3 linked regions of the Homo sapiens genome follow. The protein of the gene in region 3 interacts with the protein of the main gene of each other region in a pairwise test. Each region holds a gene or a part of one and is shown on either strand. Other genes may lie near its edges.

Region 1 (7,804 bases), on a different chromosome or scaffold from region 3:
CCGCCCATCCACCTAACACATATTCGAGATGCGTCAGATCCATTGCTGGAACTTCCGAGGCCTCTCAGTTCTTTGATCCCACCCTGCCCCCCAACCTCCCCGCCCTTACCCAAGCCCACCTTCACTCTAAGCACAAGGCTCTAGCTCCAAATCCCACCCCAGGCCCTAGACCAGCTGCGGCCTCCATGCCCCACTCACCCCCACGGAGCTCAGCCCCACCCCAGCCATGCTCACAGCCTGTCGTAGCACATGACCGAGTCCAGGCAGCGCTCGCCGTCCTTGATCTCTCTGCCACCGACCACGTAGATGGAGTTGAGAGCTTCTCCCAGGCCAAAGAGGCAGCGGGGCGAGGGCAGCGGTGGCATCCCCAGCCACTCTGAGTCCAGATGGTCAAACTGCAGGCCAGGTGTCCAGTCAGCTACCGCCCCCCACTCCCCCAGCCTCAGCCCAGCCCCACTCAGTCCCACTGCCCCAGATCACGGAGGAGGTCGGGAACCCAGGTAGGGCCAATACAGCCTGGAGGTGCCCTGAGAAACAGTGCCCCTCCTACCATCAGGCTGAGAGCAGATGAGCGTCCCCCACACCCAGGCAGGCTCCTGGCAACCACCATTATAGCAGGCGGTAGGGCACCACAGCACAGAAATGAGGGGGAGCTCTGTGAGGGAGGTCCAGCTATGGCCTTGCTTTCCCAGGCTGAACAACTCCCAACTGAGGCCTGCCTGCCCCCTCCTCTCCACCCCATCCCACTGTTCAGGAAACTTCCAAATACGGCCCTGCCTTTTCGCCCTGTAAAATCTACAGTCCACAGCCTTGTCCACCTCCACAGCTTTATAATTAAGATATTAATACTAGGGGTTCATCTTTTTGGAAAGTTTTCTGAGGGCTGAGCACCTTGCTGATGAGCACTTTATAAGCATCATTTAACCTTCCAACAACCTTATCATGCAGGAAGGAGAATATCCCCAGTTACAAACAGAGGCCCAGAGAGAATAAACAATGTGCCCACACTGCTGAGCTAGTAGCTGGTGAAGCTGCCCTCATCCCCCAGTGCAACCGTAAGGCCTGTGAGCTTAACCCTGGCACCAAGCGCCTGTCACCCCTCTTGCTGATCAGGCCTCCCTGAGCACACCACTCACCAGGCTCAGCCCCAGTTCTATCCCTTGCTTACCGTTCCTTGGCCGGAAACACTGCCATCTTCCCCTTCACATCTCCAAATCCCACCCCACTGGCAAGGCTCAAACTTATATGGCCAGTCTCCAGGAAACTGTCTCTGCCCTTTGAGATCTCACAGTCACACCCCAACTCAGACCTGGCACTCCACTCTGCTGATACCTCCTGGGCCTCAGTTTCCTCATCTGTACAATGGGAGGACCATACAGGATTGTTCCTTTGTCTGGGACACTGCTGTGAGCTCCGGGCCTGGCCTTCACGCAGAGGCCCTGCCCAGGATCCTCACACCGACCTTGCTGCTCCTTACTGTGCCCCACCCCAACCCCTGTGCAGGGCCAGGGCCTCCAACATATGCCAACTTGGGGCTACCACACCCCTGAAATTAAGATACCAAAGTTATGCTGCTTTTTGGCAGCTGCCTATTGACTGTCTTCAACCTTCAAGTAGGTGGCTATCAGTCAACCTCCCCAGTCTACATCTCACCCTAGACCCAGTGGCATTCACTTGTGTAGACACAAGCCCCTTCTGGGCCCCAAGACTGTCCACAGTGCCTAGAGCCCAGCATTAGCTGGCGGCTCCCAAGGCTGGTCAGGCACCTGCAGGAAGTATGCGCTCATGGGGTCCTCTTTGTTGTCTTCGTTGTAGAAGAGGCCTCCAGCCACGAAGACCTGGTTCTCCTTGGTAACCAGGCTGACGTGGTTCTTGGGGACCTGGTTGGAGAGGGAAGCACAGTAGCACTCGTTGGCTGCTGGATCGTAGGCCACAGCGCCCTCCTCACTGATCATGAAGATGAGATCCTGCAGGAACATGCCGAAGCGCAGGGTGTCATTGAGGATCCCAGGAAGGATACGTTCGGCCTCCTCATCCTCCTCTGCTTTGGCTTTGCTTGTGCCCTTATCAGCCTCCTTGGCCCCGGCTCCATCCTTCCCCTTCTTTTTCTTCCGCAGCGTGGTGATGCGGCCCTCGTGTGCATCCTTCACCATCTGCACCTTGCGCAGCAACTCGGGCTGGGCACGCACGAGAGGGTGGCGCTCCACGCGGCTTTCCAGAAAGGCGCGCGGCAGCAAGCGGCAGCGCACGCTCTCGAAGACGGTGGGCAGCGCGCGCTGGCGCTCAGCCTGCGCCTCGGCGTCGCCGCTACCCGCCCACCGCATCACCGCCTCGAACACTGCCTCCTCCTTCTCCACGTTAAGGCCGTCGCTGGAGATGATGGCGATGAGCTCGTCGGCCGAGAGTCCGAGGAAGTCAGCGTCGCGCGCCACCAGCGTGAAGTGAGCGCAGATGAAGTCGCGGGCAGCCACGGCGAGACGCGCGCAGTCGAGCAGGAGGCCGAGACGGAAGACGGCCAAGCAGTTGGAGAGGCACAGGCGCTTCTGCAGGAAGGACACGCAGATGGTGAAGATGGAAGGGATCTGGAAGCGGTGTGCCGCGGCGAACAAATCCTGCACGCTCGCCTCATCCAGCGCGATCTCTGATGTGTACAGGTAGTGCAGCACCTGGGCCACCACGTCCGGGGACACCTCCTCCAGGTGCAGCTCGCCCGCGCGCTCCGGCTCGGCTAGAAAGCGCGCCCGGAAGTAGGGGCTGCAGGCGGCCAGCACCAGGCGATGGCACGGGAACTCGCGCTCGCCCGCCCGCACCACACAGTCGAGGAACTTGCCATGGTCCAGCATGTCTTTGAGCCCGTCTTGCAGGAGCGTCTGCTGGTACAACCGCTGCTCCTCCGCCTGCTCCAAGCCCAGCGCCATGGTGGGTGGCCTAGGGTGCGGTGGCGGTGCCAAGGGGGCTCCTCTCTGTACCCCTGCTTTCCTGCTGGGGTTTGCTTAGACTGAGCAGCTGTCTTCGAGGGGCTATATATAGAGGTGGCCGGGTCCCTGTAAGGCGAGCCGCCTGGCCTCCTGCACATGACGCACAGGGGACAGCTGGGCAGAGGCCCCCTCCCAGAGAAAGACTTGACTCAGCCCCGGGGGCTTATGGGACGGGGGTGGGGTGTCTGGGCCCTTCTGAAAGATGAGGGCCTGGCTGCCTCATTTCTAAATGGAGCACGGAGAGGTCTTGACTCTGGATTCTTTGGTCAGGAGATGCCCCTAGGGGAGAAGGTGGCCTAAGCTCTGACCCTCAGTCCAGAGACGGGAAAGCACTGGAGCCTCTCTTCCAGGGTCTCCCTTCCTTCATGCTTTCTGGGAACTTCTGTCCTGGTGCCTCCATCTTCCCCCCCGGAATATGTCTCACTCCAGCTACCCCTGGATACAGGGTGCTTGGGTTTTCTGGTCAGAAGTTGGACATGGTGTTCACTTTTTGGCGGCCCTGTTGCCCTGCCTTTATTTTAAGAGGCAGGGTCTCACTATGTTGTCCAGCCTGGACTTGAACTCCTGGGATCAAGCCATTCTTCTGCCTCAGCCTCCCTCGTAGCTGAGATTACAGACATAAGACACCACCCCCGTTGCCTCACCTTTAAAATGGGAAGAGCTTTTCCTCTTTCTGTCCCTCCTCCTTGCAAGAAAGCAAGAAGGTACCTTAGGTAAACAAGGTTGCCACTTTCCTATGAGGCCTGGGGCAGGGCATGTCGCTCTGTTAAGCCACAGTTTCCCTTCCTACACAATGAGGAGGTGGCAAAGTTAGATGCTAAGGACCTCAGTTCAACTCTGCTGGAAGTTTAGAAGCACCAAGGTACTGTGTCCTGGGAGTACACTATTAGTTTTAACACTTCTAAGGTGTCAGATGTGCTAGCAAATTAATTTCTTAGGATTCTACTATTCTAGGTTTTTAAACCCCCGGGGTTTTAACATTCTAGGGAGTGACATTCTGAATTCTAGTGTTCAAAAAGTAACACTACAAGTTTAATATTTCAGGACTTTAGCTATCTATACTCACTATTCTTGGTGCATATTAGGCCAGACCTGAGACTGCCTGGCCATGGGGCCCCTGCACCTTGTCTATGGTCTGAGGGACCAGGGTTGAAGCCCAGGACAGCCAGTCTTGATGCCTACCTTGTTCTAGACTACTGACACCCCTCCCCACACCCTCCCCACCCCGCCCCACCACCAGACACACACACACACACACACACACACACATCAGCCTCAGTCACCAAGATTAACTTGTTCCCAAAGTGCCAGAGGCTGCAGCTGTGTGTTAAATTTAGCCCCCAGGACATTGGAATGAACTATTATGAGACACACCCCCATCATTCCTCTGAGTCACTTGTTTATAACGTCAGGCGGGGGAGTGGGGGAGGGGGTGGGTATAGGAGAGATGACAGCAGGCTGGGCTAGGACTGAGTCACCTCCCTTTTGTGATCTCAGCAATATCACTCTCTGTCCCTTTTGTTTTTAGACGGAGTTTCGCTCTTGTTGCTCAGGCTGGAGTGCAATGGCGCAATCTCAGCTCACTGCAACCTCCGCCTCCAGGGTTCAAGCAATTCTCCTGCCTAAGCCTTCCTAGTAGCTAGGATTACAGGCGCTGACCACCACTCCCGGCTAATTTTTTTTTTTTTTTTTTTTTTTTGGATTTTTAGTAGAGACGAGGTTTCACCATGTTGGCCAGGCTGGTCTTAAACTTCCGACCTCAGGTGATCCGCCCGCCTCGGCCTCCCAAAGTGCTGGGATTACAGGCGTGAGCCACCGCGCCTGGCCTCTGTCCCTTTTAAATGGTGCATCTGATCATCACTTGCTCACCCCACCAGCAGGTCCCAGAGGGACACAGCACCTGAGCAAGCTCTGGAGGTGGTCCTGTCCCTCTTGCTGAAAAGGCAAGGGCTCACTCAGGGAGGGCAGGTGGTGAGCTTCCAGCCCAGCCCTGGACTGCAGGGCATTGCTAGCAAGCACAGCCAGTGAGGAGACGAGGCTTGAGAGGCTAGGCACCTTGGCCAAGTCACACAGCGGACATGGGCTGCGCCAGGATTTGAAGCAGATCTGCCCTCTTACAAAGACTGTGGGAACCCTTCCCTACCTTGCTGCCTCTCGTGAATTAACAAAAACGTTCATCAATCGTAGTCTCATTTTCAAAGACCAGGCCAGAAGATACTGACTGAACAATTTACTTAGATTTATCAAATGACTTAATGAAATATTTTTAGATTATGATGGATCCCATAGTGCTCACTGCCTACCAGGCATTCAAGTAGAACATGTGTATGTGGCTCATTCATTCATCAAGAACCTGTGCACTGCTTTAAATGCTGAAGAGTCAGCAGTGAGCAAATCAGGCAGGAATTCCGGTCTTCATGGAGCTTACATTCGTCAGGAGGTCGGGGCAAGGTTGGTAGGGGAGACAGAAATAAATAAATAGTTATACGGGGCATCAGATGATGGTTATGGCTGTGGAGACAAGTGAAACGGAAGGCGCATGGGAAGTGGGAGGAGGAGGTGGTAACGATTTTAAATGGAGTAGTCAGGATGGACTCACCGAGAGGATCACATTTGAGAGGGGTCAAACCGTGGAGGATTCCCAGTGGGGGAACAGCTGGAGCAAAGGTCCTGAGGCAAGAGAGTGCCTGGCACGTTCCCAAAACAGCACGGAGGCCAATAGGGCTGGAGCAGTGAACGAGGAGGTGAGTAGGAGGAGGTAAGGGGAGAGGTTAGGGTAGGGGATCATGCTGACCCCCGTGGGCCAGCATCAGGACTTGGGTTTTCCTCTGAGTTGAAACCGGGAAACACTGTGTTTTATTTTTTATTTTTATTTTTTTGAGGCAGGGTCTCGCTCTGTTGCCCAGCCTGGAGTGCAGTGGTGTGATCACAATTCACTGCAGCCTGGATCTCCTGGGCTCAAATGATCCTTCTACCTCAGTCTCCTGAGTGGCTGGGACTACAGGCACCTACCACCACACCCAGCTAATTTTTAAAATTTTTGTGGAGATGGAATCTCACTATTTTGCCCAGCCTGGTCTCAAACTCCGGGCCTTAAATGATCCTCCCACCTTGGCCTCCCAAAGTGTTGGGATTACAAGTGTGAGCCACCATGCCCAGCCTCACTGTTTATTTTTAAATTATTATTGTGGAAAATACAAATACATACAAAAGTAGAGAGGATCATATTCTGACCTCTCATGTACCCATCTCCCCACTTCAGTAACTGTCAAGTCTTCAAGTCACGGCCAACCCTGTTTCATCTCTATCTCCACCCACTCTAATCAACCCAGAGGTTGCATGTGGGTGTAGAAAAAGAGGGGAGAAAGGGTGACTCCAAGACTTTTAGTGGAATCCAAGGGAAGATGTCATCTCATTTCATCCTTTTAATTTTTACTCATTTAATCTTCACACCAAAATTATAAGGTAGGTATTATTTTTCCCATTTTACAGAAATTGAAATTTAGATGGCCAGCAAATAGGAAGCAGTCTAATATTTTGAAAATAACTTTAATGAGGCATAAGTGGCATGTGATAAACTGCACATATTTAAAGTGTACAATTGGATAAGTTTTGACATATGTATACACATCCGTGAAACCACCACCACCACAATCAAGACAGGGAGCACATCTGTCACCCACGAACTATTCCTCATCCCCTTTTAAAATCTCTCCTCCATCTCTTCCCACACACCCCAGCCCAATCACTGATCTGCTTTCTGTCACTATAATTCATTTGCATTTCCTAAAGTTTTATGTAAGAGGAATCATACAGTATGTACTTTTTTTGTCTGACATCGTTCACTTAGTATAATTATTTTAAGCTTCATCCAGGTTGTCTACTCATATTTTTAACTGATAGCTTCTGCCTTCATTAGGAATCTTAGTATATCACAGGGTCATTTAAGAGAAACACAAAATGGGGCCGGGCGCAGTGGCTCACGCCTGTAATCCTAACACTTTGGGAGGCCAGGGCAGTGGGTGGATCACCTGAGGTCAGGAGTTCGAGACCAGCCTGATCAATATGGTGAAACCCCGTGCCTACTAAAATACAAAAATTAGCTGGGTATGGTGGCGTGTGCCTATAGTCCCAGCTACTCGGGAGGCTGAGACAGGAGAATTGCTTGAACTCAGGATATTTGGGTGGCAGATATTTGTCACACTTGGTGGCCTTCCTGCATCTCCTAAATAGTCTTCCTATGTTTTGGACAGTTCCCACATAAGTAGTCCTTCTTCCCTGTGGTAGAAACCAGAATTTATTTTCCCAGCTTCCCCAGGAACACAGACATGCCACTGAGCTCAACCCATTGTATGCGCCCATCCCAAAACTTCAGTTTGGAACAGGAAGCAGGAACCTGCAGCATCCATATTTTGGCGAAGGGCTGATGGACAGCAGTGTTGGAACTTCTGGAGTCTACTTTCCACTGTCCACCATACAAGCTGAGGGATCTGTCCCTACTGGCTGTGGTTTGGCCATTGTCTGGGCTATGTATCCTGCAATCCTGACTCGAGCATTCCTGAAGTTTCTGTAATCTGTCTGATACCACACTAGCCAGTGAAGATTCTGTGATCTACTGCTAAGAGGGCTGTGTGATGTTGAAAATCATTTCAGGAGTATACCAGCAACAGGTGCTCAAGGGTGAGCTTGAGAAGTCGAGAGAATTTCTAATGGCCTGCTTGCTTCTTCACTGACTTCTGGGTTAAAGGTGGCCTATGATGCAAGAAGTTGAGATGCTGGAAATGCTCTTACATTACATAAAAGGATCCAAAAACAGGCAGCCCAGA
Region 2 (5,983 bases), on a different chromosome or scaffold from region 3:
TGACACCAACTTAATTTTGCATTATGTTTCAGAGTTGCATTATGGCATGTCATTCCATTATATCATAATGAGGCAAATCAAGGAATTATTCCCTTTTACTAATAAGGCTATAGCATATATTATTTGGCCACATTGAAGAGGATAGGAGATACTTTCTATGGGTTGAAATTAATACTACTTTTAACCCATGATACATTCTATTTCAATAGCATTTGAAGTTAAAAGTAATGCGGTCTTCAACTTCTTGTCCTCTGTGTAAATCTCCAGAGATTACTTAGTATCTGTTTCAGAATCATTACAGAAAAATCAATGCTAAGATTTATGGAAAGCATTTAAATAGCTTGGACTAAAGGTATTAGCCAAATAGTGTTAACTGTGTATTTGCTTCAGGCTTGTTTTCAAGTTAGCTATATGAAGCTCTGGAATCACTTTTTTTCAGTACACAGAGCTCCTCTATGAACAGTTATGAGAAATAAAAACCTGTTGTGAGCATCAAATTTTGTTGCTGTTATTAAATAGCTATTATTATTGATACATATTTTTCTTTAGGTGGGATTTTTCCCTTTAGATATAACTGAGTTTAAAACTTGAAACTGTTAGTATTAATACATAGGTTATATTTTTCATAGGTTGATTTCTATCCAATATGAACTATAAAGAATTTTATCGTTTATTGTTGTAGATTTGTGTGATGAAACATACAATATTTCCAGTATCTTCACAATATTTTTCCAAAGAACTGAGCTATTAAAATTTATACATATAAGGAAACATTCTGTCATTTCTAAAGTGAGATTTCAAACCATAAGCTTGTTAGAAATTAAGTGAGATTATAGTATTCTGGTGATACTTAAATGTTCTTGGGATCTTTACAATCATATGTGGTTTTTTAAGAACTTAAGAATCTTTTGTTACTGCTATTATTAATAGATTGGGAAAATATAATCTGTTGACTAAAAGGCAAAATAAACATTTTTAAGATTTTATGCAGTATCCTATAATGGAAACAAACAAGAAAGGTCTTGTTCTTGTTTGTTGAGGAAAAGATGATGGCTTTGCTTTAAACATACTTGAAAAATCGACTAGAAGAGATCCTGAACAAGAAACTGTAAGACTTCTGGAATGTACCTTGAGTAACAGAGGCAGATAAACTATTTTATTCTGTTACTAGTGAGAAGATTCACTGGTAATTCACAATCACCGCCCCCTCCAACCAAATACCATAAACAAGGCCTCAGAAATGGGAACTTCCATTTCATTTTTGACAGTGATTTCTCTCAACTCTGAAAACAAAACCCCTTTTACAACTCTGAGTTAGTTTTCAAATGTTAGGGTTTCCTGCATGGGTATTTGGGGTAAGTATGAAAATGTTTTGCTGCTTAAATCAAAGAACTCTGGAAACAGATATAAATTGAGAATGGAAAAAGAGTAGTGAATAAGATGGAAATTTCTATTCTAAATTTCACTATATGGGCTACAATTCCCATATAGTTTTCCTTAGTGAACACCACCCCCCAACACACACATACAAACACACCTTCTGATTTAAATAACATTATATCTTCAGAAATGGAAAATGTGTTAAAGTTGTGTTAACAGGCTTCCTTCTTGTCTGTGTCCCATTCTCATCACAGTCTACCAGTTAGGGATGTTTAGAGAAATTTATCTTGTGGCATTGAAGTGGCTTTATGTGCATTATATATTGGGTTTTATGTATATTGCATACTGTGAAGTAATCATGATACATGCTGACAACAAAAGATGTAGATAAGTTAAAATTTTAGTTGATCCATTGTCTGTTTCTTCTTTGCCATCTTTGTAGAAAAAAATTAATTCAAGATGGACAGCCTATAAAAATGTATCTTTTTCTATTATTATTAATTTAGATATTGGCGTGCCACTTTTGAAGAAGGAAAATACTTAGCTACATTAAAAGATTTGCATTGAAGAAGCAATTGTGATATGCTGCCTTTTATCACAGTGTGACTTCCCATCAGTGCTGAGTAATGAAGTTTCTGATTAATATCTATCGTTGCTTTATCAGAATATCTTTCTCTAAAGTAAATCATTCTTGTGAATAAGAATCTAGCTAGTTGTAATGCAGTTCAGCATAGGTGGAAATAATTTTTTAAGGACTAAGTCAATTTCTGGGATTCAGACTGTTTCAGAAAAGAAACATTTTCTGTATTTCCACTAATGGCACAGTGTACCTTAGTATGTTTGGGTTAGTATTCAGTTTTAGCAATAATCATGGAGGCAGGGGTATCTATAAATATTATATCCCAATTTGCAAGGTAGCAAAGTTGTATATATACTACATAATATGACCACTTGACAGTTTATGAAGTCTTTTCATATATGCCATTTAATTGATTCATATAATAATCTTATGTGTAAACATAAAGGTGTACTACTATCTTCATTTCAAGTATCCTTGAAAAGACTTTCTCCATTGAATTGCCTTTGTACCTTTGTCAAAAATCAACTGACCAGCCTTATAGCACGTTAAGAAGTAACTTATATGATGTTATTAACACAAAGGATGGGGGAAGGAATGAAGCTATATTGGAGTAAACAATGACACCAGACAGTTATGTGAAGAAATGAAGAATACCAGGAATATTAAATATGTGAATGTAAAAGACCCTAATATATTTTCCTTTCTCCTCTTAACTTTATAAAAAGAAAATTATTTAAAGTAATAATTACAACACTATATTACTGGGTTTAAATATATAAACATATATGACAATAATAGCATAAAGGTGGAGGAAAGGAATAAAGCTCTATTGGAGCAATTTCTATATTTTTTAGAATCAAGTTAGTATTAAGCTGAGAGAAATTGTGATAAACTAAGACGCAATAGTAATCTCTAGAGTCATCACTACGAAACTCAAGAAACTATAGTAAAAAAAAATACATTAATTAAAATGGTGTACTAGAAAATACCTATTTAATAGAAAAGAAGGTGATAAAGGAGGGTGAGAGGAAGTAAAAAGACATGTGATATATAGAAAACAAATAGCTAAATGGCAGGCATGAATCCAACCATACCAATGTTAATTTTAAATTTGAATAAACACTCAAAAGGGCAGAGATTGTCAGATTGGATATAAAAACAAGATCCAACTATATGCTATCTACAAAAGATACACTTCAGATTCAGAGACAACAATTTTGGAAAACTGTCAACTATTTCTATACCATTCTCTTTCCTTTCCTTCTGTGATTCCAATTATGTGTAATGTTGAACTTATTTGATACTATACCAGAAGACTCTGATGTTATTTTTTAAAATTATTTTTTCTCTTTTTACTTCAGTTTGGTTTCTTGTGACCTGTTTTCAAGTTTTCTAGTGCTTTCTTCTGTCACATCTCATCTAATTGAGTGACCGCAACTCCTAAGTATATTGTGACTTTATTTTCAGGATAAGGGAGATCTTGAAGGCATCTCGAAAGTTGCAAGGTGATCCAGATTTGCCGATGTCTTTTACTTTGGCCATAGTGGAGTCTGATTCTACAATAGTCTATTATAAACTTACTGATGGATTTATGCTGCCAGACCCTCAGGTCAGTTTTGAGGTAACTGACAGCAAGAAGTACAAAAAGAGGAAAATTATGACGTGATTTTAAGTGTGACTCAAGTCAGTCACAGAACTGCCACTTCCTTTGCCATAGGGAAAATTCAAGAAAAAAAGTCTTGATTTTCAGACGTCAGAAAATTGGTTATATTTTGTTCAAAGTAGCATGTTCCTAGTTATTTTTGCAAAAAAAAAATTGATTTCCTTACTCTTTGGAGAATTTCATGGTTTTCCAAAGTATTTTATGAAGTCATCATGCATTTAATTATTTAGTGAGTAGCTGAGGTGGAATGTAAAGGCTAATAATAGTTGTAAGTAAAAAAACGCTTATTTAAGAAATGTTAAATTGGTTGACATTTTGACAGGAACATTTTAATAAGATAAATGTGCTATATGTGATTTCTTTACATACTTTGTTGGTATAATTTGGATAATTACATTAAATATCTTTCTAATTTTGCTTTTGGATTACATTGTTTATCGGAGAAAAGTCCATCCTGATCTTTTTTTTTTCCAGAATATTTCTCTTAGAAGATGACATCCATGTTTCCTGATGCTTGTTTTATTCATACAAGATTGGATTTGAGACCCATCAGACTGCTTCATCTTTTATCTCAGAAATAGGGTTGACGTACATAGTGAGGGTTGACTTCCCCATTCCATAAGGTTTTCATTCTGAAGAGTAAAACTTCCCCAGGTAGAAGACTTTCTCCTTCTTAAAAAATATAGGGTGATTTCTTTAAAACTTTGTTATCTAGAGACAGTTTAATTACAGTTATATACAGGTTTATGCCTAGGATGTATTCAGATGGGTGGGACCTGTGTGCTGCTTTTGTCATCCCACACTCAAAGTTGTCTCTTTGTTTCTTGCTGCCACTGCCAGCTCATTGTTGAGACTGCCATTTCTTTCTCTTACTCAGCTCTCCCCAGTGCCTTTTGGCCACTGCAGCTACCGTAGAATGGCATTTTATATGTACCTTGTCACCCACTTCTGTTTACTTTTTCCTCTCCAGTAAAAAGTAAAAGATTTCTTTCAATTGGTCTTCCCATTGCAGTTACTGTTATTTCTCTTTTTTGGTTAACTTTAAATCAAAACTCAAAATATGTTCATCCAGAGTGTGTCTTAAGTAACTTACGTGTCTTAAGTAACAGGGACCAGAGACATGTTACCTACAAGAGTTCTGGGCTATCCTTTTCATTCTTATCACATATCATAGCTTGAATATTACAACAGTGTGGGAGAGAATCAACCGTAAAAATGTCTTCATTAATTAGACCCAGTTATTCCACTTTTGTTAATGTCTCTCAAATTGTACAAAGTATAAAAAATTATATGCACAAAGATGTTCCAAGTGACATTACTTTTAGTAGCCCAAATTATAAACCACTTTAAAGTTTGGGGTAAAGATTGGCAAACTTTTTCTATAAAGGGCCAGAAAGTAACTATTTTAGGTTTTTAAACCTACTGTCTCTGTCATAACTTGTCAACACTGCTGTATGAAGCACAAAAGCAGCCATAGACAATACATAAACAATACGGGCGTGGCTTTGTTCCAGTAAAACTTTGTTTACAAATGTGGTGCCATAGTTTGTCATCCCTGGGTCTAGGAAATAGTCAATAAACAGATATATACAAATGATACATAATGTACTTATTAAAAATTAGTAATGAATATTATTAAAAACATGAAAATATTACCTTAAGTAAAAATTGCAAGACGGAAAAGTGTATAAGTGGGTGTAATCATGGCTGAAATAACAGACCAAGCATATGATAAAAAGATAACAAAGTAAATCAAATTACTAACTGGTTATAGTGGGATAGGAGGCAGAAAATGGATGACTTTGTCTTTTCTCAATGTTTTTATTTGTATTTTATAATAAAAATGTTTTAAAATTAAAAGGTGTCTTGAAATCTGTATTAGTTATCTATCATTGCAAAATAATATTACCACAAATGTAGCAACTTAAAACAGCACACATTTATTATCTTATAGTTTTTGTGGGCAAGGGACCCGGGCACAGATTAGTTGGGTCCTCCATGAGGCTACAGTCAAGGTGTTGGGCAGGGCTCCAGTCTCATCTGAGACTTGACTGGGGAAGGGTCAGCTTTTTCACCCACATGGTTATTAGTAGCCTTCAATTTCTTGAGAGTGCTCAATGCTTATATGCCATTGGCAGGAGGCCACCCTCAGCTCTTTGCCACGTGGGCCTTCTCAATATAACTGGTTGCTTCCTCAAAGCCAGCAAAGGAGAGTCTCAGCAAGATGGACCTTATAATCCTTATATAATGTAATCACATACATCCCATCACCTTTGCCGTATTCTGTTGATTGGAAGCAGGTCATAGGTCCTGCCTACACACTAGGGTTTCATGGCTGATTAGGAAACAACAATAACAAG
Region 3 (7,109 bases):
CAGCCTGGGTGACAGAGTGAGACTCCGTCTCAAAAGACTGCTGAAGATCCCAAAGATCTTTTGTTTATTGGATTATATCAATTGATAATTACCGTATTAGATATTAAAACTGATAAATTTGAAATGTATGTTTATTTATTGGTACCTTTAAATATAATAACCCATTACATCTTAACATATTTTATCTCCCCAAAATTAGTGACAAGAATGGGATTTTTGTACATTTTTGCAAATACGCTGAAGGTCTCCTTTAATGACTAGAGTCTCATCTGCTTTTGTATTCATTGTGTTGCCATGTATTATTTTGGTTGAAGTGCATGAAGAAAATCCAGCGTCATTCAGCTGAGTAGTTAGAAAAGAGATGAATATTTTAATAATCTTTTCAGATGATTATGTTCTTTTTTGATACTCATCAAAACCTAACAGTTTTGTGTTTTTGTTTCTGTTTTGTTTTTTAGGACAGTGTCTTGCTCTGTCGCCCAGGCTAGAGTGCAGTGATGTGATCATAGCTCACTACAGCCTCCAACTCCTGGGTTCAAACAATCCTGCCTCAGCCTCCTGAGTAACTAGGGCTACAGGCACACACCACCAGGCCCAGCTAATTTTTAATTTTTTTTTTTTTTTTTTTTTTTTTGTAGAGACAGTATTGCTATGTTGCCCAAGCTAGTCTCGAACTGCTGGCCTCTAGCAGTCCCCCTGCCTCGCCTCTCAAAGCACTGGGACTATAACATCCAGCCCCTAACAATTTGTTAAACGTTAGCTGCAGTGTAGAATTGCAAATCATATGAATGAACTTCTCATGCTCTGACATTAACATTGGCCTACCATGCACTTTCAAGGGCTCTTTTACCTACACATGTGTCATTTGGAAAACATTGGTTCACTGAATTGTGCAGCTCTTTCACATGACACATTTCATTATATAATTTCAGAAAATTGGTTGGGTGCGTGGGCTCATGCGTGTGATGCTAGCACTTTGGGAAGTTGAGCTGGGAGGATTGCTTCAGCCAGGTTTGAGACCAGCCTGGGCAACATAGTGAGACCCCATCTTTACAAAAAAAAAAAAATTAGTGGAGCGTGGTAGCACACACCTGTGTTCCCAGCTACTTGGGAGGCTGAGGTGGGAGGATTGCTTGAGCCCAGAAGGTTGATATTGCAGTGAGCCATCATCATGCCACTGCACACCTTCCTGGGTGACAGAGCAAGACCCTGTCTCCTTTAAAAAGTACAGTTTTTGGAATGGCTTTTATTGAAGATCTATTGATGATGAACACTCAGTTTTTGTTCACCTGAAAATGTCTTTATTTTGCAGCCATTCTTGAATGATGTTTTTGCTGAATACAAAAGTTGGCAATTGTTTTCTTTTAACATGCTGAAGCTCTTATTCCTCTGTCTTTTGGCTTTCATTATTGCTATTGAAAAGTCACCTATCAGTCTATCAATTCATTTTGTTCTGACTGTTTTTTGTGGGTTCTTTTGTTGTTTGTTTTGATCTTTAGCTTTTTGCTGCTTTGCTGTTAACTTGTATGTATTGGCCGGGTGCGGTGGCTCACGCCTGTAATCCCAGCACTTTGGGTGGCCGAGGTGGGCGGATCAAGAGGTCAGGAGTTCAAGACCAGCCTGACCAATATGGTGAAACTCTGTCTCTACTAAAAATACAAAAATTATCCCGGCATGGGGGTGCGCGCCTGTAGTCCCAGCTACTCGGGAGGCTGAGGCAGAAGAATTGCTTGAACTCGGGAGGCAGAGGTTGCAGTGAGCAGAGATCACGCCACTGCACTCCAGCCTGGGCGACAGAGCAAGACTCCATCTCAAAAAAACAAAAAAACAAGCATGTATGTATCTTGCTTGGGATTGTCTTCTTAAATCTGTAAATTGGAGATGTTTTTAAATGTGTTTATTCATAATTTATTAAATGTGATTTCCATTCGTGTTATTTATCTTAATGTATAAATAATTTTTTAAATTATCTACATAGTAAATATTCTCTTCTGGTCTTTTACTCTTCTTTCACTTTGTTTCCCACAGCTTCCCCAACAGACATACATTGCCAAACTTGTGGATTTTTGATAATTTTTGATAAGTTAAAAGTAAAACAGGAAATCTCTGGAACTAGTCTTTTGGAAGAGGGGGTAGAGTTTTTGACTACTCTTTTCATTTTCTTCATCATTATTGGTTTATTTAAATGTTTCTTCCATTTAGACCAATGTTGGTAAATTATATTTTTATAGTTTTCAGATTTATTGATATAAATTATACATGGTGATTTATAATTTTAGAAATATCTTCCTTGTATTTGTGGTTGTATCGTCTTTGCTTTCAATATTTAATTTTTTCCTTTTTACTTATTTATATTTGCTAAAAGATTACCTACTTTATTATTACTCTACAAATAACCAGCTTTTGCTTTTATTGCTTGGCTTAGTTGGCTTTTTTAATTTGCTTTTTAAAATTACTGTTTTTATCATAAGAAATGTATCTGGAGTGTACTTTGTTTTCTCTTAGTAAGATTTTAATTACATTTAATCGGAGAACTAAATCCCTTGCTAATATTTTGTATAAAGATTCACTACCCTCCTTGGCATGGTGAAATAGACCCTGTTTAGAACCTTTCATGTACACCTGCTCCCTCATTAGGAGAAGGAATATTCAAGATCCCAATGCCTGAGGTTTGTCCAGTTGGGGCACCTACTTTACCCTTGTGCATATCCCCTATTTATCTGTGCCCAGGACATTTTGCGTGGGCTACGTGTAGAGGTGGTGGCCATACATAGTTATCTTTATTCTGGCATAAATCAGATGTCACGTTCTCTTTTGCCATATGTAATAATCAAGAGTACCCAAAAGTGGGTCTTGAAATATAATTGTTTCTGAGAGGAACTTATTCTCAGGATATTTTTGTAAGAGGGACAAAACTACTTAACAGTGTGTATCCTTGCAATAAGTATATTAATGAATACGATACAACCATTTTATACAGGCAAAAGATGGTTTAATGCCAAAGCACAAACTCATAAACCCAGTTGATGAGGAGCCAGAACAATGGTCATTACTGTATAGAGATGTTTTAAAAAGTCACCATATAAGCTTTGAAATAATTCTAATGAAAATTATATGACCTTGAGGCTGGGCGCGGTGGCTCATGCCTGTAATCCCAGCACTTTGGGAGGCCGAGGTGGGTGGATCACAAGGTCAGGAGATCGAGACCATCCTGGCCAACATGGTGAAACCCTGTCACTACTAAAATACAAAAAATTAGCCGGGCATGATGGTGCATGCCTGTAGTCCCAGCTTCTTGGGAGGCTGAGGTGGGGGAATCGCTTGAACCTGGGAGGCAGAGATTGCAGCGAGCCGAGATCACGCCACTGCACTCCAGCCTGACGACAGAGTGAGACTCCGTCTCAAAAAAAAAAAAAAAGAAAGTTATATGATCTTGAATATAAAAAGTATGGTCTCTAAAGAATTTGTTGTTGTTTTTACATAATGTAGGAGGAAAAAAATTGTGGTGTTTATAAGCATCAGCCTGATTACCAAAAATACTTTTTGTGGTAGACTGGATTTTGAGAATGTTAAAACAATCTTCAAAAATTGAATATTAAATCCAAAAATAAGCAAGCCACAGCTAAATGAAAAAGTCATAGTACATAGGTGTAATACACTTTACTCAAGGGGTGTAATTCCAAAAAAAAAGTTTTTAAAAAAGGTAATTTGTCTCCTACTGGATATACTAAATACCTTAGTGAATTTTTTATTTTGAATAGCTCTTTGTTAATCTACATAATTGTTTATGAATTTAACTTGCTTTATAAGTTCAAATTATCCTATATGCTATACAACACACTAATGGTAATGATGAATAAGATCTACTAATTAGGCTTTCTTCTGGGCAATGCATGTGGGTATCTTAGATTGCTTAGTTAAAACATAATGAGTAAAGATGTCCTTAGATCAGGCCAAACACTTCATCTTCCCCCTGCACCTCCGTTTGATTAAATTTTTCGTAAATTTTGTTAGGGCTGCATGGCTTATTGGGAAGGGACCTCATCCCTACCCCAGGCATTGGTATCAATTTTCCTGAAGCTATGTGAAGTATTAAAAAACCATATTCAGGCCTGGCATGTTGGCTCACGCCTGTAATCTGAGCATTTAGAGAGACAGAGGCGGGCTGATCAGTTGAGGTCAGGAGTTTGAGACCAGCCAGGTTAACACGGTGAAACGCCTTTACTAAAAATACAAAAATTAGCTAGGCGTGGCGGCCCATACCTGTAATTCCAGCTACTCAGAAGGCTGAGGCAGGGGAATCGCTTGAAACCAGGAGGCAGAGGTTGCAGTGAGCCCAGATTGTGCCACTGCACTCTGTCTCAAAAAAAAAAAAAAAGCCATATTCATTATGACTTTTTAATTTTGTGACATGTATAAATACATTTTTTATTATCTACATAGTAAATTTAAAAAGCTGCATCAAACTGTAGCCGGTGAGGCTGCATAAATGATGTGGGACGAAGAGTTATAATAACTTGAGATCACTGTAGTGAAAAGAACGTGTATTTTAGATTAGACCTGAGATTGATAGATATCCTTACTAGGGGCTTGCGGGTAGGACACTTAAGGAAATTGGAGCTTGGAGTGAGCTTTGTAAAATAATACTAAAACCATCCTCCTAGTGGGGTTACTGTGTGACGTCCAAGAACTCGGGGGCAGTTGGCTTGCTGTCCTGTGCTCCGTTCTGACGACTGAGCCCGCCCAGGTCTGCAGGGTCCTGGGGTCCTGCGGGTTCTGTAGGGTTCCCTGGTGTGTGGAGTCCCTACCCGCTACAAGCTCCGTTGGGTCTACGGAGTGTGCGGGGATCTCCCAGCCCTGTTGGCTGTACGGGCTCAGTGGGGTTTGCAGGGATCCCCTCGTTCTGTGGGGTCCGTGGGCGCCGAGTCAGGGCCATGCCCCTGGGCTCCGCTCGCGGAGCCGGCGTCGCCCTTGTTGACTTTCAAAAGGCGCCGCCGGCCCCGCGCCCTACACGCTCAGCACGCCCTGCGCGGAGTTCCCCGCTCTGGCGCACTGGCCTTGGCTGGCGGGAGGGGGCCGGAGGGGCTGCCGGCGGAGCAGAGACACAGCCACCCTCCCCAACACACCATGAGGTGAGTCGGGGAGGGGCCTAGGTCTCCCACATGCTGTTGTGGGAAGCTCTGACCCCCGCTGTGCCTGGGGCGGGCTCACCCACGGAGGTGACTGTTAATACAGCGCTGAGTGCGAAGGAGACCCGAGAAAATGGGCCTATTCTGTCTAGTAACGTTTTACCTTCTGGTGAGGGTGTGGGGAGAGAAGCTTTGGCAGGGTCAGTGAGGCCCCGCAGCAGAGCCCTGGTGATGAAAGACACTTTTGTATGGTACCCGAAGGCTTAACTTCACTCCTGATTGTGAGTGGATTGTGTGTGGTAGTGGTGGAGCCCTTGCAGAACCGCCAGAGAGACGGTGCTAGTTGTGTGTGTGCCTATGTAAACCTACAATAGCTAAGGTCATCTTTTGAAATGTAGAACAGGGATTGCACATTGACTTTGCGCTTCAAGTATTTGCAGGTTATTACCTTAGTTTTTACTCCCTTTGTGCGTGCCGTGATTATCTTGGTTTAAACTCGTATGTGGCAAGAAATTTTTTAATGAATGTTTAAGTTTCTGTGAAAATTGTGTATTTCTCAAATTGTATTTTTTGGCTTTTAATAGGGTCACTTTGTTTTCTGGGTCTCTGTTTTGACTTACGGGAAATGCTATTTGTTTTCTCTACATTTTCTTCATTTAAAAAAAACCTGTAACTTCAGGAGTTCAAGACCAACCTGGGCAACCTCATCCCTGGAGGAGGGGGGAACCCCCACAAAACCACAACTATAACTGGCTGCTACTTAGGACTACAGGAGATCTTTTTTCCAAAGTGGAAATAGCTTTATTTCACCCAGATTATGTTTATTTAAAATTTCAGATAATATATAAAGCTGTAAAAAGTAAAGCAAAAACTACCTGTACTTGTCCCATCCAAAGATAACTTCATAGAATATTTGATTATCTACTGTGGTGCTAGGAGCTCTGTTGGACCCTGGGGACTTTGGTGAACAGACAATGCCTGCCTCTATAAACCTTACATTCTGCTGGGGAAAATAGACCTCTCCCAACCCACCAAAAAGTAAATTTATAATAATTCCATGTTCTAATGCTTTAAAGAAAACACTTGCAGCAGGGTAATCCGAGGTTTATCTGAGTGGATGACTTAAATAGATGTCACTAAAGGAACAGAAAGAGCTCAACCATGGGAGGAATGGGGAGAAAAAAAAAAGAATTCTGGTCAGAAATAACAGCATGCACAAAGGCCTTAAAAGAGGAAAAAGCTATAAAAAGAAAAATCCATGTAGCTGCCACTCAGTAGTAAGTCAGGGAAAAGTAGAGCAAGATGAGGTATAGGAAATTGGCAGGGACCAAATTTTACTTGTCCATGGCCAGGAGGGTGTGTTTTGTGTTCTGAGGGCAGTGAGAGGGTACTGAGGGGCTTTAATTAGAAATAAAGTGATCTGGAAAACTAATTGATTAATTTGTTAAGTAAATATTTATTGAAACCCTACTGTATAACAGGCACTGTTCTGAGCACTGGCATACAACAATGAAAAGGACAAAGCCCTGTATTCATGAAACTAATCTAGTGGTTGGAGGACAATCAGATAAACAAGAAAAAATACCAGATATTGATAAGTGTGCAGAAGATGACCATTGTTTAAATTGTGGTTTATATTCTTTAAGATATGGTATATTACACATATACTTCTTTTGGAACTTTCTCCTGAATAATTTATGGTAGGACATTTTTCACTGTTACTAAATAGTTTTCTTTGGGGGCATCTTAATTTGTTTTTGGATTAAGTATGGTAAAAAATAGCATGCATAAATGAAGAAATACTGTGCAGCAACAAAAATTTGCATGTTACAAAGCATCTGGTGAACGTTATATAGTAACTTCCTTTTGACAGTCTGACATGTGGCTCTCCTACCCCCATCCCAGACCCCAGCTGCCCCTTTGTGGTTTTTTATTTTGACCTATTAGTATGGTTAAATTTATGGATTTACTATTTATTGA

Evidence for each region.
Region 1: the proteins of TASOR2 (region 3) and KLHL40 interact in binary tests that used the Homo sapiens proteins (3 or more experiments, as listed by UniProt).
Region 2: the proteins of TASOR2 (region 3) and TSEN15 interact in binary tests that used the Homo sapiens proteins (3 or more experiments, as listed by UniProt).

The regions. Positions count from the first base shown.
Region 1 is NC_000003.12:42,680,733-42,688,536, reverse strand, and holds the start of KLHL40 (kelch-like protein 40), read right to left. Parts: upstream 3,001-7,804; 5' UTR 2,919-3,000; coding exon 1,767-2,918; intron 396-1,766; coding exon 235-395; intron 1-234. UniProt on the Homo sapiens protein: Substrate-specific adapter of a BCR (BTB-CUL3-RBX1) E3 ubiquitin ligase complex that acts as a key regulator of skeletal muscle development.
Region 2 is NC_000001.11:184,068,730-184,074,712, forward strand, and holds the end of TSEN15 (tRNA-splicing endonuclease subunit Sen15), read left to right. Parts: intron 1-1,886; exon of another isoform or gene 1,887-2,003; intron 2,004-3,427; coding exon 3,428-3,569; coding exon of another isoform or gene 3,570-3,581; intron 3,582-4,097; coding exon 4,098-4,118; coding exon of another isoform or gene 4,119-4,134; 3' UTR 4,135-5,483; downstream 5,484-5,983. UniProt on the Homo sapiens protein: Non-catalytic subunit of the tRNA-splicing endonuclease complex, a complex responsible for identification and cleavage of the splice sites in pre-tRNA. It cleaves pre-tRNA at the 5' and 3' splice sites to release the intron.
Region 3 is NC_000010.11:5,687,787-5,694,895, forward strand, and holds part of TASOR2 (protein TASOR 2), read left to right. Parts: intron 1-5,011; exon of another isoform or gene 5,012-5,127; coding exon of another isoform or gene 5,128-5,132; intron 5,133-7,109.